4 linked regions of the Homo sapiens genome follow. The protein of the gene in region 4 interacts with the protein of the main gene of each other region in a pairwise test. Each region holds a gene or a part of one and is shown on either strand. Other genes may lie near its edges. The genes, in order: BFSP2, TARS3, GEM and ECSIT.

Region 1 (7,695 bases), on a different chromosome or scaffold from region 4:
TTCACTGAAAAAATCAGGAGCATTTCTCAATTATGGAGTTTTCTTTTGTTCTTCTTGATGGAATAGAGTTTAATATGGCTGAAAGGCTGGGCTGTGCAATATAGAAAAAGTAACTCCAGGCTGGGCATGGTGACTCACTCCTGTAATCCTAGCACTCTGGGAGGCAGAGGCGGGTGGATCACCTGAGGTCAGGAGATCAAGACCAGCCTGGCCAACATGGTGAAACCCCATCTCCATTAAAAATGCAAAAAAATTAGCTGGGCGTGGTGGCGTGCACCTGTAATCCCAGCTACTCAGGACGCTGAGGCAGGAGAATTGCTTGAACCCGGGAGGTGGAGGTTACAGTGAGTTGAGATCGCACCACTGCACTCCAGCCTGGGTGACAGAATGAGACTCCATCTCAAAAAAAAAAAAAAAGAAATAATAACTCCATTTTATCAATTGGTCTTACTCTATCTTCAAGTCCATGATTTTTTAAAAAAGAAGAAAAAGAGAACTTTATTCATACCCAGGCCCTCATTTATAGTCACTTAAGAGGAAAGTGAGCCCATGTGGGATCCTGACCCTCAACTACAGAGGTCGCATGTCTTGGTGTGTGGCTGTGGTGCTCTCACAGGATTTTAGAGCTTCCTAGTCTGTACTCTACCTGTAAGCAGGAGCCAGGCTCTTATTTGTCTACAGATTTGCTGGAATATGTAAGCATTGTTATACCCATTTTGTAGATAATGAAACTGAGGCCCAGAGAAGTTAGTAAGTTGCAAAGGCTCTTGTAGCTATCTGGAGCCAGAACAAGTCAGTATCTATTGAGTATAAACTAAGTTTTGTGGCCCTACTTTTTAACCTAGCCATTGGGATACCTGATTTCTCCTGACAAGTCTGTGTGGCATCTGATTGCAAGCGATTGTCCAGCAGATGCTGACATATTGGAGTATCTAGGGATGTTCTGGTGGTTGTTATGGCACAATATTTGGAATAAGGACAGTTGTGAAGAATCCTGGAGGAATGGCTGCCTCTTAGATTTGACAGGCGTTAAGGCCCTGGACTGTTCTAAGATGGCTCTCCCTTGCAGCCCAGATGGATGCAAGCAGAACAGCAGCACCAGGGGGAGAGCCTGAGAGGATGGTGCTGTTCATCATGCACTCTGTGCTGTCAGTGGGCACTGACAGCAGTGCAGGAGAAGCATCCTGGGATGAAGTGGGAGGCAGGAGGGGCAAATGGGGAGTCCCTGTGTGCAACTGCTTAGCTTCCCCCAGCTATACACAAATAAAATTTTGTGACCTCCTCTTGGGAGGCTGCATACTGGACTCCAGGGGGCCAAGGGTCTGAGTTGGCAGTCCCTGGTGGGTTAGAGACTGATTTTGCTCAGAGGGATCCCAAGGCCAGCATCTGGAGAGAAAGAGGAGGAGGAGAGGTGAAGCCAGCTATCCACAGAGAGACCAGCTGAGAGGTGTAATGCTGGCTGGAGTCCCAGCATTAGAACTACAGGCTGCAGGCCAGACATGATGGATGTGCTCCAGACTCCGCAGAAATCACCCTGGAGAGTGGGAAAAGCAGGGCTGACCAAGCAAGGGAGAAAGATGAAACCTCTGCATCCTTCCCTGTCCAATAAGATAGCCATTAGCTACCTGTGGCTGTTTACATTTAAATTAATGAAAATTAGATAAAATAAAAATGCAATTCCTCAGTCTCATTAGCCACATTTCAAGTGCTTGATAGCCATATATGGCTAGTGGCTGCCAGATTGGACAGTGCAGATATAAGATATTAATATTTCCATCACGCAGAAAGCTCTACTTGAATGTAAATTACCTCATTAATATATTTTGTATTGATTACATGTTGAAATAACATTCTGGACATATAGAGTTAAATAAGCTATAATATTAACTTCACCTGCTTCTTTTTACGTGTTTTACTGTGGGTAATAGAAACTTGTCAATTACCAATGTAGTTCATATTTCTATTGAACAGCGTGGTTGTAGGTGGATACAGGAACACACCTCCATTTATTCATTGTTCTTAACACCTCATCCATCCAATGGTATTTGATTGGATAATAGCTGTAAAAATCCCTTCTCAACAGTAAAGGTGACTGAGGCAGCCCCAGGGTAATGGGGCAAATGCAACTTTGGAGGCACAAAAATTCAGGTTCAAATCTCATCTCCATCCCTCTACTAGCTTTGAAGTCTTGGGCAAATTACATGCCTCAGTTTCTCATCTGAAAAATGCAATCAGTGAATGATCCACTGCATAGCATTTCTTTGAAGTTTAAAGAAGACAGTGGGTAGTGCACGTATGGGGGCTAGCGTGGGCTCCTAGTAAACCTCGGTAAAAGGTAGCATTGTTGTTATCATTACCATTTTAAGTGTGAAAGTGTAGGGGATTATGGTCAGTTTCTCTGGCCTCAGCCTACTCACAACCCTACCCGCTGCCTTCAGCAGCCCCTCCCAGCCCTCTGCAAAGCCCTTGGCACAGCCTGGACACTTACCTGCTGGCAGCTGCTGGCCCAGGAAGCCCGTAGGGCACCCCAGTTTCCCGAGCGTGTGGCTTTGCTCTCCAGGTGCATCCGCAGTTGTGTTTCCAGCTCCTGACTGACTTGCTCAAGGGCGTGCACTTTGGCCATATATTCCACCAGGCAGCCCCCTAGGTCCTCAACAGCACCATGGTCCCTCTCCAAACCTGGAGCCGGCACGGTGGCCAGGCCTGAGCTCCGCAGGCCCTGAAGGAAGACACTGCTGATGCCGAGGGCCCGGCGGGTCACACGGGCACCCAAGCCACCTATGCACCCACTGGGTGCTGTTCCTACATAGACCCCGGGTGCTCGGACAAGGCCACTCATGGCATTGGTCCTGGAGGCTGGGGGGCTCTCCAGGGAGGATGATGACCGTGGCCCCCTGAAGGACGCCCTGCGCCTCTGGAGGGGCATGCTGGAGCTGGCACTGGTGGGCAAGTCCACTACCACTCGCCTCTCACTCATCACCCCTTCTGCCTCTGTGGTGCCCAGTGGGTTTACAGAGTCCAGTGGCTTTTGGTTTACAGCCCCAGCATCCCTGTGGCCTGGTCACGGGCCTCTCTGGAATCTCCCCTATCCCTGGGGCTGCTTTGTCTGCTGTCTTCCATGAGTTTCCATCATTCACTGAGCTGAAAGAGAAATGGGCACTGCCCAGGGCTGTGTGCAGAGAGGCACTCATGCATTCTTTGATGCAGGGTCATGTGCCCAACCTCCCAGATTATTCTGCTGGTGGTGGGGGAGGCTGGATCAGTGCAGGCTGTGGAGGTAGACCATTTGGGTTTGTGCATTTTACTACCTAAGTGGGCAAGGCAGGCATCAAGCAACCCCATTTTACAGATGAGTAAACTGAGGCTCAAGGACCTCAGATGACAAGTGTACTGATCACTTGCCCCAGACCTCAGATTACAAGCTAGGACTCAATCTAGCTATTTCAGGGCTTTCTACATCCCTATGTGTGCTGGCACATGTGAATGTGAACACATGTCCACACAGGCAATAGAGGATGAAAAATGGCAGGAGGCAGCTCCAGGGACCCAAGAGAAAAGACTTGCCTATGGTTTCCTCTCTCAGTCCTGGCAGCAGCTTCAGGTCCTTCCCTCACCTCTCTCCTTTCCTCCTCATCTCTGTCCTCTAATGCTCTGCTGTTCATCAGCTGCTTGCTGTTGGCCAGGATGCTTCCTCCCTCTGGACCTCACTGTCTGAACATTGGCTTGGGCCTTTAACTCTCTGATGCACCAGATAAGGACCTTGGGCAAATTCAGATCCCACACATGTTCCGGCCATTCCCTACACCTCTGCTTCTCCATCTGTTGGAAAACTGAGAAATAAAAACAACAACGAGGGTGTTTTCTGGTAAGCCTCTCCAAGGGTGCCCCAAGTTAGGATATGATGACACCCCTGGGTTTTAATTATTGACCTTGGCATCCACTAAGCCACCAAGGGTCACACCTCAATCACTTCTCTAGGATCAGAAAGGTTCCCCCAGTTACAGGATGACAACATGGACCTAAAAACCTCTGTACATAAGTTTTACCCTGGAGAAACCAGGTCACCAAACCCCAGAGCTGGATACTTTTCCAGATGCTGTAATGTAGGAATGTACCTCAGGTGAGAGAAGGAGAAGGGAGTCAATCTCTAGTGAGTAGCAGATCCAGCCTGGTGTGTGCATGAATCCTATGGTTTATTTCGTGGAATTCTCAACTCAACCTCAGGAGGAAGGAGGTCCAGGGTTGACAGGTACTGCCATATGGGCTGTGTACCTCACAGCTCTAAAATGACATGTCCTACAGTTGGCCACTGTCCTCTTATGTGAGGAGGACCCCGAGAGCTGCAATGACTTGCCCAAGGTTCTATGTCCAGAAAGTAGCAGAGCTGGGGGCAGACAACCTCTTCCAAACTCTGGGCCACTGACTTACTTAGGAGCCTCCCTGTTGCCCACCACCCAGAGAGCAGAGTACCTACCTGAGGTCACGCAGGTAGAGGTAAAAAACCTGGTCGCCTACTAGAGGACCCTGTGTGCACTTCCTTCCTACTGACCAGGACACTCCAACCCTTCCTTTCTTTATTGTCTTCCACTTTGTCTCTCTGAGATGGCCTGGGAGGTATTTTATAAATATCAGTGTTGGCTATTTGATGAACAGATGAAAGAACCAATTGGATTAAGTAAAGGCCAGTAGTGTCCTTGTTTATTCAGATGTAGCATTAATGCTGTGAACACCACCCCTGATGCACCCAGAAGGGGCATGCGAGCCTGTGTTACAGTAACAGCCTCCTATACGGATGACACTGACTTGGTTCTGAGGATCTGCATTATTGTGAATTCCAAGATGTATTGTCCAAGGCTGAATGAAAAGTTCAGGCTACTGATTAAGTTGTGCACAAATGTGTCATGTTTAGGCATTGTTATTCTCTACAGAATGGTAACACTCAATGGCCAGGTTAACTTCAGACTTCTCCGGACCAAAGATATTTACTATATAAATCCACTCAGCCCTGGAGACAGGGAGAAAGAGGGGGGGATGTACTTTGACACCACTGTCTCCAAAGACCTGATGAAAGATGAGTCTGTTTTGGAGAAACTGCAAACATGTTCAAAAAGATTTATTTTATCAAATGATAAACTGCTAATCCTATTAGCTCATCACATACATAAAACTCAACTTACTGTTAAATCAGATTAAAAAATACAGATGGATATAAAGTGGTGTTGGTACTGCTTAAGGAAGACTTAGAGCTTATCTTGAAAAGAATGCAAAATGTATTAGCAACAGAATCCTCTGGCTAATAAAATAAGTTTATTTATATATACATGGTAGCTGAAATCTGTGGATAAGGAAAAATAAGTCATACATCCACATATGTATATATAACATATGTATCTTTGATTACATATATTATATATAAATTTTACTTTACAAACAGATTTTTCTCTGTATACTTACACACATTGGTATATTAAATGTAACAGTTAACAGAAATATTATGGTAAGGTTAAAAAGGTAAGACAACAACACGCTAGAAAATTAAACTTAGAGAAACATTTAGTTGCTTCTTTGTGGGTTGAAGAGTCTTTGAAGAGAGACAACAACCGAACTCATGTGAAGGAGGTTCATACAACATTGAGAACACACTTTTGAAGGCCATCTTTTTTTTTTTTTTAAGGAAAATGCAGAAAGAAAAAAGTCATGATAGACTACAGCAACAACACAAACATATGACCCAATATTCAAGTTCAATTCCCAATCTGACTATAAGAGCATCTATATTCAAAATATACTATCAAACTATTTTTCTTTTAGAGAAAGGAAGTGTCAAAGCAGTAATCATCTCTCTCAGCCACAATCAGGAAAAAATAGAGAAGCGGCCACCTCTGGAAGCCCCTTGGGCGTCTCTGAGGGTCTGACGTTGTTGGCCGTGCTGGACACAGCACGGGGAGGCAGCCAGCCGGCCGGGAACAAGGGGAGCAGTGGAAGCTGAGAGCTGGATGGCAAGTCCACCGGCTGGTGCTGCGAGCAGGTTTGCAGTGCCAAGTAGGAGTATAATGATGTCTTCTCCCAAATGATTTGTTTGGGCAATCTTTTTTTTCTTTTTTAAAGATTGCAGGAGGAAGGTTTCAAAAATTATCGCTCTACTACCTCAAAGCTTCTTAGATAAACATGTTCCTCAGGGGCACGATACCATGGCCTTTTGAGAAAACAAAGCTGAACCCCAATAAACATTTGATCCTTGAAGAAGGAAGGGCAAGCATTTTAAAGCTCCAGGGCCGGGATCTGCATCTAAACCCTCTCCAAGAGAAAGGCACGGGTGTTTAATGCAGATGTGGGTGTTGGAGGGGATACAGGAATGGGCATAAAGGGAGCATTTTCCCACCAGGGAAAGGCAGTCCTGTTGTTAGCAGTGGAAGTAATGTTAGGGGAATATGGCCTTGGGATGCCTTGATGTCCTCCATGGATTCCTGAGGGCTCCATGCTCCTGCCTGCCATCCACAACTTGGATGGAATTAAACATGACATCCAATGGTGCCGTCATAAGGCTCCAGGGTACTCATCCTCAGAGGTGATGAGATGTTCCCTTTTCCTTCTCTGTGCATGAGTCTGCCGTCTTCCCCTGAGGCGGTCCAGTTCCCTTTACAGGTGTGCGTATGAGAAGGGAGGAAATGGGGTCACACCAAATCAAGAGGAACCAGAGCTTTAAGAATCACTCAAAGAATCGTGCGCTTGCACTGTAACATTCAGCTTCTACAGGAGGTCAGTCTCTTACCTCACCTGACCAGGGTTCCTGGGATCCCCAGGTGCTCAAGAATAGTTATTAAGAGAAGCAATCAATGCAACTGCTTTGCTTAGAAATACCTTTATTTTATAAAGCCACAGATCATTCTGTAAAGTTTTTTTTTTTTTTAAACCACACTTGTAAAAAAGATGTTGACAATTCATAGGAAAAAAAGCTGAAAATGTTTCTCATTAAGTCAGGGTTACACAAAGGTTATATTTATAATATATGTATTTGTATATTTATAATTTAGAGACGAAAAATACGGAATGGCAAAGTGATGCCTGCTGTAGTTAGATCTCAGATACTTGATCGTTTCCCACAAACAGTGTTTCTTGACAGAAGGGGTTAACAAGGACCATCCCAGTGTCTCTATAGTCGCCATTGGCTGGGGAGCGGGGCTCTGAGAGCTGGTCCTGGGAAGAGAGAGGGAGGAGATGGAGTGAGCTGGAGAAGGCTTAAGAGGTGGCCATTCTTAAAGAAATGTACACATGGGAACATTTATTTCAGCACTGATGGCTTGGTGCACATTTTCATCATCCCTACTGCTAATGCTGAGGTGCACAGCCCTCTATGCCATTCTTTTAATTAATTTGTGTGTGTGTGTGTATGTGTATATTTTAATTTTTGTGCTGTTCTTTCATATTTTTATAGCAGCTTTCAAAAAATGTTCCCTGCTTCTGGAATCACCCCAATCCCAGGTTGCCAGAGATGGTACTGCTTTCCTTGTCAAAGTCTGAGGGGACTTGCCATGCATGACACACATACAGTGCATGGCTCACTGCACTAGTGGCAAAACTCAGTCCACTTGCACCCAGACTACTTCCTGCCTCTTTCTCACAGACTTCTGGGAAACTTCTCTGCTTTTCCTTCCTGAATACACCTAGACTCACTCGCCTGTTTCCTGCTACCCA
Region 2 (7,026 bases), on a different chromosome or scaffold from region 4:
TCTTTCCTGAGATTTTCTGTTTCTTCGCTGACTTTGTAATTTTTGTTTGTTTCAAGTGTGTTAGTAATTGCTCATTAGTTAGTAATTGCATTTTTATGGTGGTTGCTTTAAAATCTCTGGCAGATAATTGTAACATCTTTGTTATTTCAGTGTTACCGTTCATAGATTGTCTTTTTAAATTCAAGTTGAGATTTTTCTTGTTCTTAGCATGATGAGTGATTTTCAATTTCTTAAACCTGGACATTTTCGGTTTTATAGTAAGCCTCTGGATCTTAAATGTTGTTTTAGCTGACTTCCACTGACACTCTTCCAGCAGAGGGAGGACAGTACTGGACAGTTACTGGCAAGTGGGAAAAGCAGTCCAAGCTCCTTTTAGAAAGGAAGTAAGGGGAGAGGAGCTCCTCGTTACTTCTGGGTTGCACAGGTGTTCTAGCCCCCCTCCATGGCCTTTACTGCACACAGAAAGCATGGCCTCATGACCAATTGGCAGTGAGAAAGTCTTATCTTTCCACTAGACGTCTTCTGACACTACTCAAGCAGGACTGGAAGAGGCACCTCATTACTTCCAGGGGAGGGCAAAAGTCCAGGCTCCCCACATAGTCTTCACTGACACTGCTGGGTTGGGGGAGGGGGATGGGATCTTGTTAATGCAGGAGTAAAATTCCCAGCTTCCTAATAAGCCTTCTCTTACCCATTCCAACAGGTATTGAGGTACTTATTTAGAGCCTGCTGAGAGTTAAAATATAAGCTTCTCAATCAGCCTTAGCTGGCATATAAAGGGCCACAGTTTTTTCTGTGGTGTCTGGTTGAAATAGAGTAGATATTGTCTAAAACTTTTCTATCTTTCTAGGCTGCCCCTTTCCTAGTCCTTTGGCTACAGCAAGCAGACTTCTGTTGGCCTGTTTTATCGATGCCTGTTGGCATCTGTTGGTTGCCAAGTCTGGAATATATGTGGCAAAACAAAACAAAACAAAAACACCTAAGGAACTCACTACCATGTTGTTTCTTAGGTCCTGATGTCCATAGCCAGTGTGCCCTTTTTCTCAACACCTTTCAGAGTCTCGTGTTTGTTTTATATGTAATATCCAAGGTTTTTACTTGTTCTTAGAGGGAAGGAAAGGGAAAGCACCTGCTTCATCTTCCCCAAAGCAGGTCTTTTTTGCTCATTGTTTAACTGGGTTGTCTGTTTTCTTATTGAGGTTTGAATATTTGTTAAGTATTCTGGATTCAAGTCCTTTATTTGATATATGCCTCACAAATATTTTCTCCCAGTCTGTAACCTGTCTTTCCTGTCTATGATCAGTATTTTTTGAAGAGCAGAAGTTTTAAATTTTGAGGAATCCAATTTATCAACTTTTTTCTTTTATGGATTGCCCTTTGGTGTCATATCTGAGAAATCATCACCTATCACCTAATTACAAAGATTTTCCCCAATTTTTATTCTAGAAGTTTTGTATTTTTATGTTTGACATTTAGGCCTGTGATTCATCTTAATTTTTTCATATGGTATGAGGTATGAATCCTCATACCTCATGTTTTGCATATGGATACACAATCATTCCAGCATCATTTGTTGAACATATTACCTTTCCTCCATTTTATTGCCTTCGAATCTTAATTAAAAATCAGTTGTCCATATATTTGTGTCTATTTCTAGACTCTGTTTTGCTGATTTATCTATCTAGACCAGCATGATTACTGTAGTTTCTCATAATTCTTGAAACCAAGCATAGTGACTCTTCCAAATTTGTTTTTATCTTTCAAAGTTCTTTTGGCTATTCTAGGTTCTTGTGCTTTCTATACGAATTTTAGAATCAGCATGTCAACTCTTACAGGGAAAAAAGGTCTGCTTGGGTATTGACTGGGATTGTACTGACTTTATAGATCAACTTGGGGATAACTGATATTTTAATAATATTTAGTCTTCCAAACCACGAACAAGGTATATTTCATTTATTTAGGCCTTCTTTAAATTTATCTCAGCAATGTTTTAAAGTTTTCACTGTATAGGTTGTGTATGTATGTATTACTCAGCTTGGGCTGCCAGAACAAAAATCCATAGGCTGTGTGGCTTAAATAAGAATCATTTATTCTTCACAGTTCTGCAGGCTGGGAAATCCAAGATCAATGTGCCAGCTGATTCAGTTCCCTGGTGAGGGCTTTCTTCCTAGTTTGCCAACGGCTGACTTCTCACTGTGTCCTCACACGGCAGAGAGAATCAGAAAGCCTCTGGCATCTCCTTAAAAGGGCACTAATCGTATCATGAGGGTTCCATCTTCATAATCTCATCTACACCTAATTACTTCCCAAAAGCCCCATTTCCAAACACCATCACATTGGGGGTTAGGACTTCAACATATAAATTTTGGGAGTCACAATTCAGTCCATAGCAACATATTTGTCAGTCTTATCCCAAAGTACTATCATATGTTTTGAGATGCTATTACAAATTGTTTCTTATTTGCAATTTCCAAGGGTTTATTATTATGAAATGCATATACAATTCATTTTTGTATGTTGATATTCCATACTACAATTTTTCTAAATTCACCTTACTTCTAATAGCTTTCTGTAGATTCCATCTGATCTCTACATAGATGATCATGTCATTTACAAGAGTTTTAATTCTTTCCAATCTAGGTGTTTTTTATTTCTCTTTCTTAACTTACTGCATCAGAAAGAACCTGCAGTACAATGATCAGAGAAGTAATGAGATAATCCTTACCTAATATCTGATTTTAAGAGTAAAGCATTCAGACTCTCACTATTAAGTATGAGGTTAGCTGTAGGTTTTTCATAGAGGCCTTTTATCAGGTTAAGAAAGTTCCCTTCCATTCCTAGTTTTGAGAGTTTTTATGAGATATGGATGTAGAATTTTGCCAAATACTTTTCCCTGCATCTACTGAGAAGATAATATGCTTTTTGTCTTTTTGTTTGTTTTCTTTTTTTTAGTTTGTGAATGTGGGGAATTACAATGATTCATTTTCTAATGTTAAACTACCTTTTCATTCCTGGGATTCAGTCCATTTGATTAAGATGTCCTTTTTAAAAAATTACTAGATTTGACTTAGTAAAATGTTGTTTAAATTTTTTGATTTTATGTTCATGAGAGATGTTCAGTAGTTTTCTTTTAATTTCTTTGTCTTATTTTTCTATCACAGCAATATTAGCTTCATTAGCTTCATGAGGTGGTGAAGATTTCCTCCTCTTCAATTTTCTGGAAGAGTATCTCTAGATTGGTATTATTCCTTCTTTAATGTTTGGTAGAATTCACCAGTAAAACCATCTTGGCCTGGAGTTTTCTGTGTAGGAAGGTTTTTAACTATCAATTCAATTTCTGTAGTAGACACAGGGCTATTCAGATGATCTACTTCTTCTTGAGTAAAGTTTAATAGTTTTGTCTTTCAAAGATTTATCCATTTCATCTAAGCTGTCAAATGTATGAGCATAAAGTTATTCATAAAACTGCCTTATCTTTTTAACAGCTACAGAATCTGTAGTGATGACATCTGTCTCATTCCTGACATTTTTATTTGTCTTTTTTCCCTCATCAGTCTGACTAAAGGTTTATCAATTTTATTGATCTTCTCAGAGAACCAGCTTTTGTTTTATTTTTACTCTTTATTTTCTATTTCAGTGATTTCTGCTCTGCTCTTTCTTATTTTCTTTCTTTTGCTTCCATTACATTGGGTGTAATTTGTTCTTCTTTTTCTATCTTAAGTAAAAGCTAAGTCATTGATTTTTCTTTTCTAATGCAGGTATTCAGTGCTATAAACATCCCTCTACCACTTAAATCGCATCCTACAAATTTTGATGTGTTTTTATTTCATTTGTTATATAAAATTGTCTAATTTTCCTTTGGATTTTGTGTTATCTATTTTTAATTCTATTGTGGTCAGTTAGGATTAGGGTTAAACATTAGGGTTAATTAAACATTTTATTTTAATTGCATCCCTTTCAACTCACTGAGACTTGTTTTATGGTCCAGAATATGGTCTATTTTAGTAAATATTCTACGTGCAATTTCAAAGAACAAATACTCTGAGCTTTTTGTAGTTCATAAGCGTGATGACTGGGTGTACACACATGTGTAAGATGTACCTCCCTCACACCTCGGTACAACATTGGCATATTACCCACCCCACATGAAGCACATTGGATACAACACTGGCACATTACCCATCCAACATGAAACCAAAGAATGTATATTCTGCTGTTGTTATATAAACATCAATTAGGTCAAATTGTTTGACAGTGAAACTTTGCATGGCAATTTTAACTTGAATTAACACAAAAACTTGAAAAAGTAAATTTTAAGTTCTAGGCGATACTGAAAAACAAAACATCCAGAATTCCACCAAATCCCTTAAAATACTCCACTTAATGGAATTTAGGTTAATAAAATCACTGAAGGAATATATTTCATGTCAAGAGATGATTAATCTATTGACCTAATTTAGAGAATCACAGCAGGTTAGAGCTGAATGAATCTCAGAGACTAGACCAAACGTCTATGTTTCAGTAACTCTGAAAGAATACAAGATGTGTGCGGGGCATCACACTCAATTTGTGACCACACTGCTTCACTCTGTGTTATTGTTTACCTGCTCCACTGTGCAAAAAATGTGAGCATCGTCCTGCTGGAAGCGCCTCACTCTGGTCAAGCCGCTGAGAGTCCCCGACAGTTCATTTCTATGCAGAACTCCAAAATCAGCAAATCTAATAGGCATTTCCCTCCAAGATCGTGGACGATGGGCAAACATTAGACTAGAAAAGATGTGGTAACACACAGCTTTTACACAGCACAGAAATATTAAATAATTATCTAAATATAAAGAAATTACAATTAAGCCTCAAGATTCATAAACTCCTTATTCTAGTTCTTAGATCACCAGGTTAAAAAAAAAATTCTTCCACAAATTAGTGAACCTTGCATTTACATCACTGCAGCACTCTGAGAAAGATGCTTGTCTATTATCTCTTCCCAGAAATGCTGTTCCCTCCCCTTATCCACACAGTGAATCACCATTTACTGTTTATGATTCATTTCAAAGGCTACTTCTTAAATGAAGCCCTCCTAGACATTTCCCAGACAGGGCTAGGCAGTTTCTCCTCACGTTCCTGGAACACCTCAAACATGCCATCATTATGGCACTGGTCTTTTTATAACAGATTGTCTACATGCATGGCCCTGCCCACTCTGCTCATGAGTTCCATGAGGGAATGGTTTGTGTCTTAATCACCTCTGCACTTCTAGCTCCAAGCACAAAAAGCACTCAACTATGTTCTCTGTTGAATGAAAGACTTCTCTCCTGCAGAAAGCACTCCTAGCTTCCATATCCCATTGCCTCTAAGCCACCGTGGTCTTGCTTTCTTATTCTGAGGTGTAAAAAGACAAACTTAAATTCTCTACTTTCATTATAAAGTACGAGGCTATAATTTTAAAGGATGCCTTTGAGAAGATGAGTTAAGAAATTGTTAACACAAGTGTTTTACAATGCAAAACACTAGCATAGCTTCTACCTTCTGTTTAGAAAGAGAGGATACAGAATGTTTACATACCGGTGTTCCTAAAATTAAAGTTATATATATTTTTTACATGACATCATCATAAAGTTAAATTTCTTCTCATCTTCACTTAAAAGGGCAAAGAGCTTTCTTCAGTGTTCAGTTACCGGTTTTAATAATTATCTTCTAGGTAAATTTACTTGAAACTATGTATGTTGATAATACAAAAACTACAATTGTTGGGATTGTTTTTTGTGGACAATTATGCCTATTCAGTTTCAGTTGTACAATATGTTTGTCTTACAAGGTTGAATTTGCATACCAACTTTATGATAATTAGTCTTTCATAGAATCAAAGACAGCATTGATTGTAAAATGTATCTTCATTTTATGTGCTACAAAGAAAGAAAATAACCTATTAATTAAATTATGATATAATGCTAAGATGCCACCAACTATAAGATGCATTTCAACTTCAGAAATGTTGAAATGTGGAAGAAAAATGGTATCTTGGAATCAGTGAAATCCAGAAACCCATTGATTATGACCTCATTGATCTTGTTATAATCCACCCAAACAGTATGAAAGAACTAAATATTCTGCAAATATGAACATGTGAAGTGCATTACTATAAGAAAGACAAATATTATAAAACTTATAAAATTGACACATAACATTATCCTTTAATCAGCACAAAAAAATGCAATGGTTACCAGCTAACATCCCATACCTGCCAAAGATCAAATATATTTTCAAAAGTAAATCCATTCTCCGGAATGAAACAACTTAGTAAAAATTAGTAATCACCACTCTTCAGATTAAAGGGACTCTTTCATTCCACAAAGCATTAAAAGATAATTGTGACGAAGCGTGCTATGTGCTCTCATGAAAAGGTCTGCTTCGCTTTTAATACTCACCAGTGCCCTGGACAATTCATGGGTTTGAGGGCAAAAGTGTCCTTTTCAATCTCAAAGGTAAACATGTTCTCGCTGTAATGCTGCCAGTGGCCTGAGGCTTCCCAGAGTTTACTGTTGTACATATTGGGAGAGAGCACCTCCGTGAAGTCCCGTTTGTGATATTCCTCCTTCAAGATACATGCATTCAACATTAAAATCTGCTAGGGCAGATCACAATTCCATGCAAAGTAACACTATGAGCAAATATTTTCAAATTGGGCTCATGTCCTATATTAATTCATGATTAATGTACCCTCAGTTTTAGGTGTGGTGGTTTCTGGATCTTGGAAGAAAGATTTACATATGCTTAGTATAATTTCTATTGAGTATATTTATTTTATAGCATATAACAGTATATAGTATATAATGTTTTAGTTCTTTGAAAAGTAGTAATTGAAATACAATATATATAGAAACTCACTGTAACTACTCCAAAGTCCTTCTAAACAGGTTTTTTCCTATTAAGAGGCAGAAAAAATTTATAATTTAATAAGCCTGAATGCCATGTTGCATGTTATAATTTTGATTTATTTAGTTTTAAACAGAAATAAGAATTTTAGTG
Region 3 (7,026 bases), on a different chromosome or scaffold from region 4:
ACTTGCTGATAGGAAAAATAGGAAAAAGGAAGAAAATCGCTTCCAACTCCCTAAAAGCATTGGTCTTCTATGCCTATAAGATGTCTGGTGGCTGTAAAGATTGCTAGCCTGTCCAGTATTTATGCCAAAAAGTTTTCACTTTTCAGTATCTTCTACAGCTTGATTTGATAAATTACACAACTTCTCTGCCAAACAGCATTTCCAATTTCTATTTAATCTACCAAAAATGAGCCTTTTCTGACTTCCCAAAAACTCCCTTTTGCCTTTTCCAAGTGATGAGATTAAGAACACTTTTGTGGGACTAGGAGGGTTTTCAATTAACAGAAGTCTAGCACATAGGTTCTGAAGCTTTTTAAAATCTTTAAAAAGCCAATGTTGAAGACTGGTATTGAGAATCTCAACTTCATATGAGATGGATGTATGTTATTTAAAATAACAGTCAATGCCTGTTTGTATTTTCCCTAAAACAAATAAACTTTTTGGGTGTGTTTTTTAATAGAACTAAAGGCAAGTCACTACAACTTGCTTGTTATTCAGAACTCATCTGTGAACGACCTGTTCCTTAGAACAGTCTCATTCTTCAGCAGTATGCTTTTAATCAAGAAAATGAGCCCACCTCATCTGGAACACCTACTATATAGGACAAGGTCACCCTTGCACCAAACAACTTGTTGAAAGGAAAGCCCTAAAGGAATTTAGAGAGCTACAGGCTCTGCATACCTTATTTTCCCACATATCCAGGAGTATAATCGTTGCACTTTCCCCATCAACCATCAGGGTTCGTTCATATGTATCTTCTAGAGAAGAAAGAACAAAGATATTGGAGTCAGGCGAATATGCAACACTTCTCCATAAGAGGGTCAGGTAGAAAATTGTGCTAGAACATAAACTTACTAAATATGCAATTAATTATGTAAGTATACAGATATTTTCAAAGGCAAATTACTATTTTTTGTCACCTTCAACAACATTCTACATATAATTCCTCCAGTCCTTATCCAGCAGAACGTCTCTCTCGAACATGTGTCACTAAACCACATGGAGTAAAAGGCATTTGTTTGCATCATTCCTGGACCTTTTGTATGGCAAAATCATTTGTGAGGATAAACTTACTCAAGAGCTTTTGACTCAGATTCAATGGTTAATGCTATGAGGAAACATTAACCACCCAGTGAAACTGTAAGCCACATTTTCATAAGTCCATTGTACCTTTCAGTGGGTAGTTACTGAATACTCACTAGCAATTTCAGGAGCTTTGGGCTCAGAGACATTGCTCCTCTTCGGACAAGTGCAAGAATGAATCTTGAGACTCTCCCTGTTTTGGCTGTAGTTTTCTTCCTTTTTTTAAAAAAAATGCTGTTCCCTAGGAATAAGTGGGCTTGTTTTTCCATCTTGAGTATAATAGAAATGCAGCCTCCAGCTCTACTTGGTAATGGAAACTTTCCTCCCTGCACTTGAGCCCAGATCTTGTGTAGGTGAAGGGTGAACACAGTACAGTACAATGGGCCAAAGCAGTTCCAGCCTGGAAAATCCATGGGGGGCAGGCGTAGAAAAGGGGTACAGTGGGATTTTTGCAAGTGGGATTTCCCTCATCCCAATACCATTGAGCCCATCCCCACTCTATTTTCACAATGAGGTTTCCTGTTTTGAATTTCATCTTTTGAAAATTATGACTTTCATAATGATTTATCATTTTTCTTCTGTTCTTTTTGTCTAGAATCTTTTCCCTCAAATACCCACAAGGCCTGTTTCCTTACCTCCCTCTGGGGGAGGTGCTTCCTGGCCATCCATTTAAAATTGCAACACTTCTATCCCACAATATTCCTTCTCTGCTTTATGTTTCTCCATCTCACTTATTGCCACCTAACATACAACACATTTAACTTACTTATTCTATTATTTTCTGTCCCTCCTGCCCCTCTCGTAATGTTAGGGCAGACATTTGCATCTATGCTGTTTACTGTGTCCCCCAGCACATTGGTACATTGCTGGTGCACAATAAAGTTTGTACAGTGAACGAATGATAAATATAGCATTGTGGCTGTGAAAACAAGCAAACCTGAATTCAAATCCAGGTGCCATCCCTTATGAACTCTGGGGGTCTACGCAACTTAGGCTCTCTGAGCCTCAGTTTTCTTCATCTGTGCAATGGGATTGATAATAGTACTCACACCTTAGGGCTATGTGACAATTACCTGTATTAAGCCTGGGCACAAAGTAGAAACTCAGTCAGTGTTAGCCATTATCACTTCTTCAGGTGAAGGAAGCTGGTTCTTGCCATACTCAGCACTTCCTCACTACAGATAAATCCTAGCTTAAGAGAGCTACGTTGGAACCAGGGCACTTCTTGTTTTACAATAGCGAGCAGTTTACGAAAAACACTGCTCCTGGTTTAATGCTTCATCATCTAAGAATTGGAATCAGGAGAGGTTTCCCTTCCTTAGAGAAGGAAAACTTGGACAAATAAGAAGAGAGTTAACCAGGCATGGCCCTGTCTTTCTGTGAGTTTCCCCACCTCCCACAGCGTCATTCTTCTAATCAGTAAGTGTTTGCCCTTGGGGAATTAAAACTCTGTCTCGCCCATCGTGTGCCTGCTCACAATATGCAGAAGGAATGAGATCACAGTGGGACTATTTGGATTACCAGGGGTAGAACCTCACAACCTCAACCTGTAAATTAGACAACGCAAGGGAGACTGTCAGAGCCTGAGCAGCACAGAACGGGGATGGCCTGACTGCTGCTTCCCACCACAGGGTTCTTAGCTCTTCTCTAAAACCCCTCCCTGCACTCAGACAACTCCTTCAATGATGGAGGAACTTTCTCAGCCCACCACTCAGGTACAGGGGACTCGCTTGAGTGCCCAGTCATTCAAATAGAAACATACTGTGTTCCAATCGCTGACGGAAAAGGAAAACCCAACTTTCTCCTGGCTTAAGAGATATCAGAACAAGTCTAGAGAAAAAGTGGACTAAGGATCACAGCCATGAAAGTAAAAACATGCTTTCCCGTTCTAGAAGCTTCCTGACAGGATCATTCTGTCTGATCTTACCTTTGCCTGAAAATTACGGTGTTGGAGGCCTGGGAGGCTAAAACAATCCATCTCCTCCCTGCTCAGCACGTGTGCTCCCCACTTTACCCCCCACCCCAGTACATGAGTTTAGATACGGCCTCTGGCTGTGTGCACCAGGACCCTTCCAGCACACATGGCATCCCGACTGAAGGCTCTCCCCTAACCAGGTGCAAGCCTGGGAGTAACCAGAGCTCCAGGTTTCTCTTCATCTAAGTTGCTCAGCTCATCTTTTATCCTTTTCAAGTGCTAATCAGGTGAGAAGAAGGGAAGGAAAAGAATACCAGACTCTAGGAGAGCTCTTTGAAATCTGCTTCCAGTAAAGGTGTGGAGAAAGGTTTGGATACTGATTAGTCTCTGTGAGGCTTTTCCGTAATCTGGGTCTGGAGACACCCCTACTTCTCCAGTGCACTGGAAGAAAGCTGGGGTGTCTGTGCACACTCTATGTAGCAAAAGAACTCATGCTGATGGGGACAGACAGACGTTCTATAAGGGGTGATGGTGGTCAGTAGCCACTTTCTCTAGACCAGTTTGTCTTTCCTCATTTGATCCCCCTGACAGACTCTCTCCCTGACCAAACTTTAGTCAGGCTCCTCTGAATCCTCTTCTCTACCCGGCCTCTCCCTGGGCTTCCGTTTCCATCCTGGCAGAATTCAGCTTTAGCAAGAATCCTGCTAAGTCAGTTTAGTGAGAATCCCCCACCTTCAATATCTGATCAAATTCCTCACCCACCACCTCTGATAGTCTAAGTCCTTGGCCTGACTTCAGCAAGAATCCCCCTAACCTTGACGTCTCCTCTTAGTAATTTTCCATCCTCTGACCCCCTCCCACCTGCTCCTTGGCCTGACTTCAGCAAGAATCCCCCTAACCTTGACGTCTCCTCTTAGTAATTTTCTATCCTCTGACCCCCTCCCACCTGCTCCTTGGCTAAGTGCCCACTTGTTCTTCTTGTACTTGGAATTGAGCCCCATCTCTCCCCACTATTGGGATGCCTACTGCAATGGCCCTGAATAAAGTCTTCCTTACCATGTTAATAATTTTTTCGTTAACACTCCTTGTGCTTGGAAGTGAGGCCCCTTCTGCCCAAGACTGGCTCAAGTGCTGTGTGTGTGTGAAACCCGCCCAAGTGTTCTCTCACTGCCAGAACTGACTCCTGCAGCACCTCTAAAGTTCTGAGACTCCAGCATCCCTCTCCCTGAAAACTTTCAACTGCTTCCAGCTTTCATAGCTCAGGGGATCCCAAGGAACCTCAGAAGAAATGCCTGCTCTACAAATACTGTCCTCTACTCTACTGGCCCCGGTCCCCTCTGGACAGCTCCACGGGCCCCAGCCAACAGTGACCAAAGTGGACAGGGGCCACAAGCAAGGAAACCACCACTTTTGAAAGATAAGCACATCAAAAGGAAATGGTAGATTCAGAATCAGCTCTAACTAATGCTCATTTCGTACTTACTATGTGCCAGGCACCATGCTCCATGCTCAACATGTTATATCCTTTAATCCTCGTAACACCCTATGAAGGAGGTATTACCCCAATTACACTAATGAGGCAGCTTGAGGAGGCTAAGTGGCTTGTCCAAGAGCACCCAGCCAAGTCAGTGTCAGAGCTGCGTCTAAACCCATCATCAAACCCCAAGCCCAATGAGACTTCCGTACTTTGCTATATATGTGTGGTGTGCCTTCCCACCTAGCTCAGGGCTTCCAAATCCTAGTTGTCCCTAGGGTCCAGTTCAGAGACCATCTCTTCCATGAAGCTTTTATTTATTTTATTTATTTTATTTTATTTTTATTTTTATTTTATTTTATTTCATTTTTGAGATGGAGTTTCACTTTTGTTGCCCAGGCTGGAGTGCAATGGTGAGATCTCGACTCACTGCAATCTCCACCTCCCAGATTCAAATGACTCGCCTGCCTCAGCCTCCTCAGTAGCTGGGATTACAGGCACATGCCACCACGCCCGGCTAATTTTTTGTATTTTTAGTAGAGATGGGGTTTTACCATGTTGGCCAGGCTGGTCTTGGACTCCTGACCTCAGGTGATCCACCTGCCTCGGCCTCCCAAAGTGTTGGGATTACAGGCATGAGCCACCATGCCGGGCCAACCATGAAGCTCTTAAATCCACAGTCAGAGGTAATCTTTTCGCCTCGGAATTCCCACAGCACTCTCCTTACACCACTTTCAAGACATTTACCACATCCTATCTCAATTTCTACTTGGTGTATACATTATGCTCCATTGCATACTGTGAGCATCTCCGCAGAAGAAGCCCCATGACTCTTTGCATGTCCCCAGAGTGCCTCACCAAGCTCTGTGCTATACATTCAGTAACTTCTTAGGAATGAATGAATGAATGAATGGCATTCAGTGTATACAGAGAGTCATAAGATTACTGTAGTGTAACTGTAACAATATCCATCTTTATTAGGAGAAATCATTATGAGAATATTATGTCGATTTTTTTTCTTACAGTGAATGCTGATTTAAAAAAAAAAAAATGTAGGGGTGTGCCTTAGAAAACCTTCCTCTTGGGAAACAAAACCAACTAGTGATTCCAGCAGGTCCTACAGATTCTCTGTGTAAGAAGCTAGGGAAAGGATTCCCTTTCTCTCATGATTGAACCCAAATCCTGTGTCTTTTCATGGTCCCCTGCGGCCCCAGGATCAGCCATATGCCTGATGCCCAATGTGCTGTCATATTGGGCATCTCTCTCTCTCTCTCTCAACAAAGAAGTTCCCAAAATATCTGGGAAGGCTACCTTTCCAAATTCCAGGTATGAGTCAGTCTTCTTAACATTTTATGCCTATGGGAATATTACCCTCTGGATACATACAACTCCATTCTAATGGACAAACATTTTTGAAAGTCTACTATCCACTAACTTTTTTCAATTCTTCCCTCTTAAAAACAAAAAACAACTCCCAGTCCATCTCTTCCTTATGTCAACGCCCAAAGCACTGTATCGTTACTGCTTAAAATATTAGTTAATGTGACCCTGCTCTGCAACATAGCAACTAACACTTAGCTCATTACTAGGGGGCATGGTATACCTCATCCATCGCCTTGTATCCCAGAGCTTAGGCCAGAGCCAGGTGTGTGGCTGATGCCCAATGTGCTGTCATACTTAGTATTTGGAAGCTAAATCCTGGGGCTGCAGGGGGCTATGAAAAGACACAGGATTTGGGTTCAATCACAACTAGATTTGAATCCTGGTCATACCATGTACTAGTTTTTTCACCCTGGGAAAGTCACTTGACTTTGTAAGCCTCCATTTCTTCACCTGTCAAATAGGTATATTAATGCCAGATTGATTCAAGTATTATCAAAAATATGTGTGGGAAGTATTTAACACAGTGCCTGGCACATAGCAAGTTCCCCAGAAATGGTAAAATGAACTGAACTAAGATGATAAAATCCCAAATTCTAAATCCACCTTCCTTATTGGGTGATTCTGGATAAGGCTTTTGATCTCCCTGAGACTTAGTTTACTCATGAGTACAAGAACTTTGTGAAGACCAAAATAAACAGCAGCAAATATAAGGCACCTAACAAAGTGCCTCTCCCGTTGCAAACATTCACTCTAAATGCTAGCCCCTTCCTCCCGTTTCTCTTTCCTAGCAAGTCACCTGGCAGCCTTTACAAAGAAAGAGGGAATCAATTGTACAACACTGGCCCTATTTCTCCCTTTACTCTTCTGAGATTCCAGGAGTGAGGAGAGAAATCAATGTTACAACAATGAGTCATTATTTATAGCCCAGTTCCTGAGCTGCCTCATGAGGCAGTGAACTCCTTGACACTGAGACAATCAAGAAGAATAAAACCTCCAGATGAGATGGGCTGTGGGTAGTGAGGAATAACATTAATATGCATCAATGCAGGGGAGAACTGAGTCATCGCTAAGACACCTCCCTACTCTGTGATTCAGTTGTGAGTCGCGACAGAACACAGACCATGTGACTTGG
Region 4 (7,026 bases):
AGAGGCCTCGGGCCAGTAGGGTGGCCTGGACCCAGCTCATGCCTCTGCTTGTCAGACAATCACCTGGCCCAAAAGAAGATTCAGCATTAGCCTGGCACCTTACAGATGCTAACAGACGCAAGGGCCCCGCAGGGTCGAGGGCACACTCCAGATTATGTGGCTCACTCACCAGCCCCAATGTTTACCTTACCCAAGAAACAGGCTGATGACTCAAAGACTTTGTTCTTGGGACAGCACCCTAATCCTGCTGCCCCAGGGGCGTGATCATAGCTCAATGCAGCCTCCAACTTCTGGGCCCAAGTGATCCTCCAGCCCCAGAGCGTCGAGAAGCTGGGACTACAGACGCGTGCCACCATGCCCAGCTAATTTGAAAATAGTTTGCAGAGACCCAGGGTCTTGCTGTGTTGCCCAGGCTGGTCTCGAACTGTTGGCTTCAAGTGATCCTCCCATCTCTGTCTCCAAAAGTGCTGGGATCATGGGTGTGAGCCAGCACTCCTAGCCACTACAATCTAATTTTACAAAATCTGTGTCACTCCAACAAGAATCCCTGTACCTGGCCAGGCGCGGTGGCTCACGCCTGTAATCACAACATTCTGGGAGGCTGAGGCGGGCGGATCACTCGAAGTTGGGAGTTCGAGACCAGCCTGACCAACATGGAGAAACCCCATCGCTACTAAAAATACAAAAAATTAGCCGAGCATGGTGGCGCACGCCTGTAATTCCAGCTACTGGGAAGGCTGACGTAGGAGAATTGCTTGAACCCAGGAGGCAGAGGTTGCAGTGAGCCAAGATGATGCCATTACACCTCAGCCTGGGGAACAACAGCAAAACTCCATCTCCAGAAAAAAAAAAAAAGAAGAAAAAAAAAAAAGAAAGAAACCCTGTACCCATTAGCACTCAATTTCCCTTCACTCCCAACCCCAAGAAACCACTCATCCACTGTCTCTATAGATCTCCCTATGCCGGCCATTTCATACAAATGGAATCTGGAATCACAAGTGCTCCTTTATGATTGGTTTCCTTCACTTGACATGTTTTTTTTCTTTTTTCTTTTTTTCTGAGATGCAGTCTCGCTCTGTCACCCAGGCTGAAGTGCAATAGTGCCATCTCGGCTCACTGCAACCTTCGCCTCCCGGATTCAAGCGATTCCCATGCCTCAGCATCCCGAGTAGCTGGGATTACAGGTACATGCCACCACGCCCGGCTAATTTTTGTATTTTTAGTAGAGATGGGGTTTTATCACGTTGGCCAGGCTGGTCTCGAACTCCTGACCTCAAGTGATCCGCCAGCCTCAGCCTCCCCAAGTGCTGGGATTACAGGCGTGAGCCACCGCACCTGGCCCACTGACGTGTTTTCAAGGTTCATGCATAGATTTTTTTTTAATTTTTATTATTTTTATTTTTAGACAGGATCTTGCTTTGTTTCCCAGGCTGGAGTGCAGTGGCACAATCTCAGCTCACTGCAACCTCTGCTTTCCGGGCTCACGATTCTCCTGCCTCAGCCTCCTGAGTAGCTGGGACTATAGGTGTGTGCCACTGCATCCAGCTAATTTATAGATTTTTTTGTAGAGATGGGGTTTCGCCATGTTGCCAAGCTGGTCTCAAACTCCTTACCTTGTGATCCGTCCGCCTCAGCCTCCCGAAGTGCTGGGATTATAGTCGTGAGCCACCGCACCCGGGCTTTTTTTTTTTTGAGATGGAGTTTCATTCTTGTTGCCCAGGCTGGATTGCAATGGCATGATCTTGGCTCACTGCAACCTCTGCCTCCCGGGTTCAAGTGATTCTCCTGCCTCAGCCTCCCAAGTAGCTGGGATTACAGGCACCCGCCACCATACCCAGCTAATTTTTGTATTTTTAGTAGAGATAGGGTTTCACCATGTTGGCCAGGCTGGTCTTGAACTCCTGACATCAAGTGATCCACCCACCTTGGCCTCCCAAATTGCTAGGATTACAATCATGCCCGGCCAATTCCACTGTTTTTGGAATGGAATATAACCAGGTTTTGTATGGCTATAACCATATTTTATTTATGCATTCATCAATTGATGGACATTTGGGGTTGTTTGCCAAATGTTTTTGACTGTTATAACTACTACTGCCATGAACATTCGTGTAGAAGTTTTATGTGAACACATGTTTATACTTCTCTTGGGTATATACTTAGGAGTCAAACTGCTGAGACATATGGTAACTACATGTTTAACATTTTTAGGAACTGCCAGACTGTTTTTGGGGATGACTGCACCATTTCACATTCCCATCGGCAACGTACAGTTGACCCTTCATCAACAAAGGCTTGAACAGCATAAGTCCATTTATACGTGGATTTTTTTTTTTTTTTTCAGTAAAAGTTATGGCTGTACGTGGTGGCTAACGCCTGTAATCACAGCACTTCGGGAGGTCGAAGCAGGCAGATCACCTGAGGCCAGGAGTTCGAGAGCAGCCTGGCCAACATGGGAGAGACCCTATCTCTACTAAAAAAACAAAAAAACAAAAATTAGCCAGGCTGGGGGCACACTCCTGCAGTCCCCAGCTACTCAGGAGGCGGAGGCAGGAGAATCACTTGAACCCAGGAGGCAGAAGCTGCAGTGAGCCAAGATCGTGCCACTGCACTCCAGCCTGGGCGAAAGAGGAAGACTCTGTCTGAAAAATAAGAATAAGACCAGGTGTGGTGGCTCACGCCTGTAATCCCAGCACTTTGGGAGGCCAGGCAGGATAATCACTTGAGGTCAAGAGTTCAAGACCAACCAACCAACGTGGCAAAACCCCATCTCTACTAAAAATACAAAAATTAGCCAGGCTCCTTTTGCCGGTGGCGGCAAGCATGGAGAGGATGCCATGAAGGCCTCGGGCACACTACAAGAGTACAAGGTGGTGGGTTGCTGCCTGCTCACTCCCAAATGCCACACACCACCCCTCTACCACATGCGAATCTTTGCACCTGATCATGTCGTTGCCAAGTCCCACTTCTGGTACTTTGTATCTCAGCTAAAGAAGATGAAGAAGTCTTCGGGGAGACTGTCAACTGTGGGCAGGCATTCGAGAAGTACCGCCTGCGGGTGAAGAACTTCGGCATCTGGCTGCGCTACAAACTCCCAGAGCAGCACCCACAACATGTACCAGGAATATTGGGACCTGACCACCACGGGCGCTGTCACCCAGTGCTACCGAGACATGGGCGCCCGGTACCCCACCTGGACCCATTCCATCCAGATCATGAAGATGGAGGAGATAGCAGCCAGCAAGTCCCACCGGCTGGCCGTCAAGCAGTTCCAAGACTCCAAGATCAAGTTCCCGCTGCCCCACCAGGTCCTGCGCCATCAGCACAAGCCACGCTTCACCACCAAAAGGCCCAACACCTTCTTCTAGGGGTAGGGCCCTCACCCAGGTGTGCCCCACGTAAACTCAGGAACGCCCCGGTAAAAAAAAAAAAAATTAGCCAGTCATGGTGGTACATGCCTGTAATCCCAGCTACTCAGGAGGCTGAGGTGGGAGAATTGCTTGCACCTGGGAGGCAATGTTACAGTAAGCTGAGATCGCGCCACTGCACTCCAGCCTGGGTGACCGAGTGAGACTCTGTCTCAAAAAAATTAATTAATTAAATTTAATTAAATAAAAGTTACAACTTTAAACACTGAGGGGCTAGTAAAAAGAAAAAAGGTCGGGCACGGTGGCTCACGCCTGTAATCCCAGCACTTTGGGAGGGTGAGGCGGGTGGATCACGAGGTCAGGAGATCGAGACCATCCTGGTTAACACGGTGAAACCCCATCTCTACTAAAAATACAAAAAAAATAGCCAGGCGTGGTGGCAGGCACCTGTAGTCCCAGCTACTCAGGAGGCTGAGGCAGGAGAATGGTGTGAACCCGGGAGGCGGAGCTTGCAGTGAGCTGAGATCCCACCACTGCACTCCAGCCTGGGTGACAGAGTGAAAGAAAAAAAAGTTACAGCTGAATGTGCCTGCCTCTCCATCTACCTCCTCCACCACCTCTTCTGCCTCTGCCACCCCTAAGACAGCAGGACCAACCCCTCCTCTTCCTCCTCCTCCTCAGCTTACTCAATGTGAAGACGATGAGAATGAAGACCTTTATGATGATCCACTTCCACCTAATGAATAGTAAATTCAATGTGTTTTCCTGATTTTCTTAATAACATTTTCTTTTCTTCAGCTTATTGTAAGATTATAGTATTATATATATATATAACATTAAAAAATATGTTAATCACCCTTTCCCTGCCACTGCCGAGTTGCGCGGAGGCGGAGGCTTGGGTATGTTCAAGATTCAGCTTCACCCATAACCCACTGCCATGGCCGAGGGAGGCATTGCTGCTGGAGGTGTAATGGATGTTAATACTGCTTTACAAGAGGTGCTGAAGACCGCCCTCATCCACGATGGCCTAGCACGTGGAATCTGTGAAGCTGCCAAAGCCTTAGACAAGCGCCAAGCCCATCTTTGTGTGCTTGATCCAACTGTGATAAGCCTATGTATGTCAAGCTGGTGGAGTCCCTTTGTGCTGAGCACCAAATCAACTTAATTAAGGTTGATGACAACAAGAAACTAGGGGAATGGGTAGCGCTCTGTAAAATTGAGAGAAGGGAAACCCTGTAAAGTGGTTGGTTGCAGTTGTGTAGTAGTTAAGGACTATGGCAAGGAGTCTCAGGCCAAGGATGTCATCCAAGAGTACTTCAAATGCAAGAAATGAAGACATAAATCTTTGGCTCACATAAAAAAATAAGTTAATTGACTGTTATGTAATCACTGAGACCTCTGGACAACAGTGGGCTATTAGTAGTTAAGATTTTTTGTTTTGAGACAGGATCTCACTCTGTTGCCCAGGCTGGAGTACAGTGGTATGATCATGGCTCACTGCAGACTTGACCTCCCAACTCAAGCAATCCTCCCACCACTGCCTCCTGAGTAGCTGGGATTACAGGTGTGCGCCACCACACTCAACTAATTTTTACAATTTTTATAGAGGCTGGGTTTCCCTCTATTTTCCAGGCTGATCTCAAACTCCTGGGCTCAAGCAATCCTCCCACCTCGGCCTCCCAAAGTGCTGGAATTACAGAGGTGAGCCACTGCACCTGGCTGGATTTTGGGGGTGTCAAAAGTAGCCTGGCAGGGTGGCTCACGCCTGTAATCCCAGCACTTTGGGAGGCCGAGGTGGGCAGATCACGAGGTCAAGAGATCGAGACTATCCTGGCCAACATTGTGAAACCCCATCTCTACTAAAAGTATAAAAATTAGCTGGGCGTGGTGGCAGGCGCCTGTAGTCCCAGTTACTCGGGAGGCTGAGGCAGGAGAATCGCTTGAACCCAGGAGGTGGAGTTTACAGTCAGCCGAGATTGCGCCACACTGCACTCCAGTCTGGATGACACAGCAAGGCTCCGTCTCAAAAATAAATAAATAAATAGAGCACCCCACTGAAGGCTGGGCACAGCGGCTCATGCTTCTTATCCACTTTGGGAAGTCAGAGTGGGAGGATCACTTGAGCCCGGGAGATCAAGAACAGCAAAAAGAAAAAAAAAAAAGAAAGAAAAAAAATACCAGCTGGGTGTGGTGGCACTCATTTGTAGTCCCAGCTACTCAGGAGGCTGAGGTGGGACGATCACTTGAGCCCAGCAGTTCAAGGTTATATGAGCTATGATTGTGCTACCACACTCTGGCTTGGGTGACAGAGTGAGACCCTATCTCAAAAATAAAAAAATAAAAAATAAAAAGCACTCTGGCCAGGCGCAGTGGCTCATGCCTGTAATCCCAGCAATTTGGGAAGCCAAGGCGGGTGGATCACAAGGTCAGGAGTTCAAGACCAGCTTGGCCAAGATGGTGAAACCCCGTCTCTACTAAAAATACAAAAATTAGCGGGACAGGGTGGCGGGCGCCTATAATCCCAGCTACTAGGGAGGCTGAGGCAGGAGAATCACTTGGACCTGGGAGACAGAGGTTGCAGTGAGCCGAGATTGCACCACTGCACTCCAGCCTGGGCAACAGAGTGCAACTTCATCTCAAAAAAAATAAATAAATAAAAATAAACATAAAAAGCACTGCAATGACTTTCATATGCACCTAGGATTAAGACCTTAATTTAAATTTTCAGGGCCAGGCTCGGTGGCTCATGCCTGTAATCCTAGCACTTTGGGAGGCCATGGTGGGAGGACTGGTTGAGCCCAGGAGTCCAATACCAGCCCTGACAACATAGCCAGACACTGTCTCTATAAAAAAATTTAAAAATTAACCAGGCATGGTAGTATACACCTGTCTGTGTTCTCATTCCTTGGGAGGCTGAGGTGGGAGGATCACATGAGCCTGGGAGGTCCAAGCTACAGTAAACCAAGTTCATGCCACACACTCCAGCCTGAGCAACACAGCAAGACCCTGACTCAAAACAAAAAAACAAAAACAAAAACAAAAAAACTACAGCTACTTAAAGTGTGTTCTAGGGACTGGCAGTGTCAGCAACATTTGGAAGTTTATTAGAATAGCAAAATTTGGCCGGGCATGGTGACTCACGTGTGTAATCCCAGCACGTTGGGAGGTCCAGGCCAGCTGATCACCTGAGGTCGGGAGTTCGAGACCAGCCTGACCAACATGGAGAAACCCTGTCTCTACTAACAAAAAAAAAAAAAAAAAAATACAAAATTAGCCGGGTGTGGTGTATGCTTGTAATTCCAGCTACTTGGGAGGCTGAGGCAGGAGAATTGCTTGAACCTGGGAGGCAGAGCTTGTAGTGAGCCAAGAGCACACCATTGCACTCCAGCCTGGGCAACAAGAGCGAAACTCCATCTCAAAAAAAAAGCAAAATCTCGGCCCTATCCCAGACCTACTGAACTGGAATCTGCATTTTTTTTTTTCCCAGGCGGAGTCTTGCTCTGTCGCCCAGGCTGGAGTGCAGTGGTGCAATCTTGGCTCACTGCAACCTCCGTATCCTGGGTTCAAGCAATTATCCTGCCTCAGCCTCCCGAGTAGCTGGGATTACAGGCACATGCCACCATGCCTGGCTAATTTTTGCGTTCTTAGTACAGACAGG

What was found.
Region 1: the proteins of ECSIT (region 4) and BFSP2 interact in binary tests that used the Homo sapiens proteins (3 or more experiments, as listed by UniProt).
Region 2: the proteins of ECSIT (region 4) and TARS3 interact in binary tests that used the Homo sapiens proteins (3 or more experiments, as listed by UniProt).
Region 3: the proteins of ECSIT (region 4) and GEM interact in binary tests that used the Homo sapiens proteins (3 or more experiments, as listed by UniProt).

The regions. Positions count from the first base shown.
Region 1 is NC_000003.12:133,395,366-133,403,060, reverse strand, and holds the start of BFSP2 (phakinin), read right to left. Parts: upstream 3,006-7,695; 5' UTR 2,978-3,005; coding exon 2,489-2,977; intron 1-2,488. Other genes in the region: TMEM108 (transmembrane protein 108 isoform 1 precursor), read right to left, coding at 7,075-7,197.
Region 2 is NC_000015.10:101,679,471-101,686,496, forward strand, and holds part of TARS3 (threonine--tRNA ligase 2, cytoplasmic), read right to left. Parts: intron 6,593-7,026; coding exon 6,426-6,592; intron 4,768-6,425; coding exon 4,605-4,767; intron 4,147-4,604; exon of another isoform or gene 4,045-4,146; intron 1-4,044. UniProt on the Homo sapiens protein: Catalyzes the attachment of threonine to tRNA(Thr) in a two-step reaction: threonine is first activated by ATP to form Thr-AMP and then transferred to the acceptor end of tRNA(Thr).
Region 3 is NC_000008.11:94,252,316-94,259,341, forward strand, and holds part of GEM (GTP-binding protein GEM), read right to left. Parts: intron 798-7,026; coding exon 721-797; intron 1-720. UniProt on the Homo sapiens protein: Could be a regulatory protein, possibly participating in receptor-mediated signal transduction at the plasma membrane. Has guanine nucleotide-binding activity but undetectable intrinsic GTPase activity.
Region 4 is NC_000019.10:11,519,131-11,526,156, forward strand, and holds part of ECSIT (evolutionarily conserved signaling intermediate in Toll pathway, mitochondrial isoform 1 precursor), read right to left. Parts: intron 4,724-7,026; exon of another isoform or gene 4,226-4,723; intron 3,421-4,225; exon of another isoform or gene 2,801-3,420; intron 64-2,800; 5' UTR 41-63; coding exon 1-40.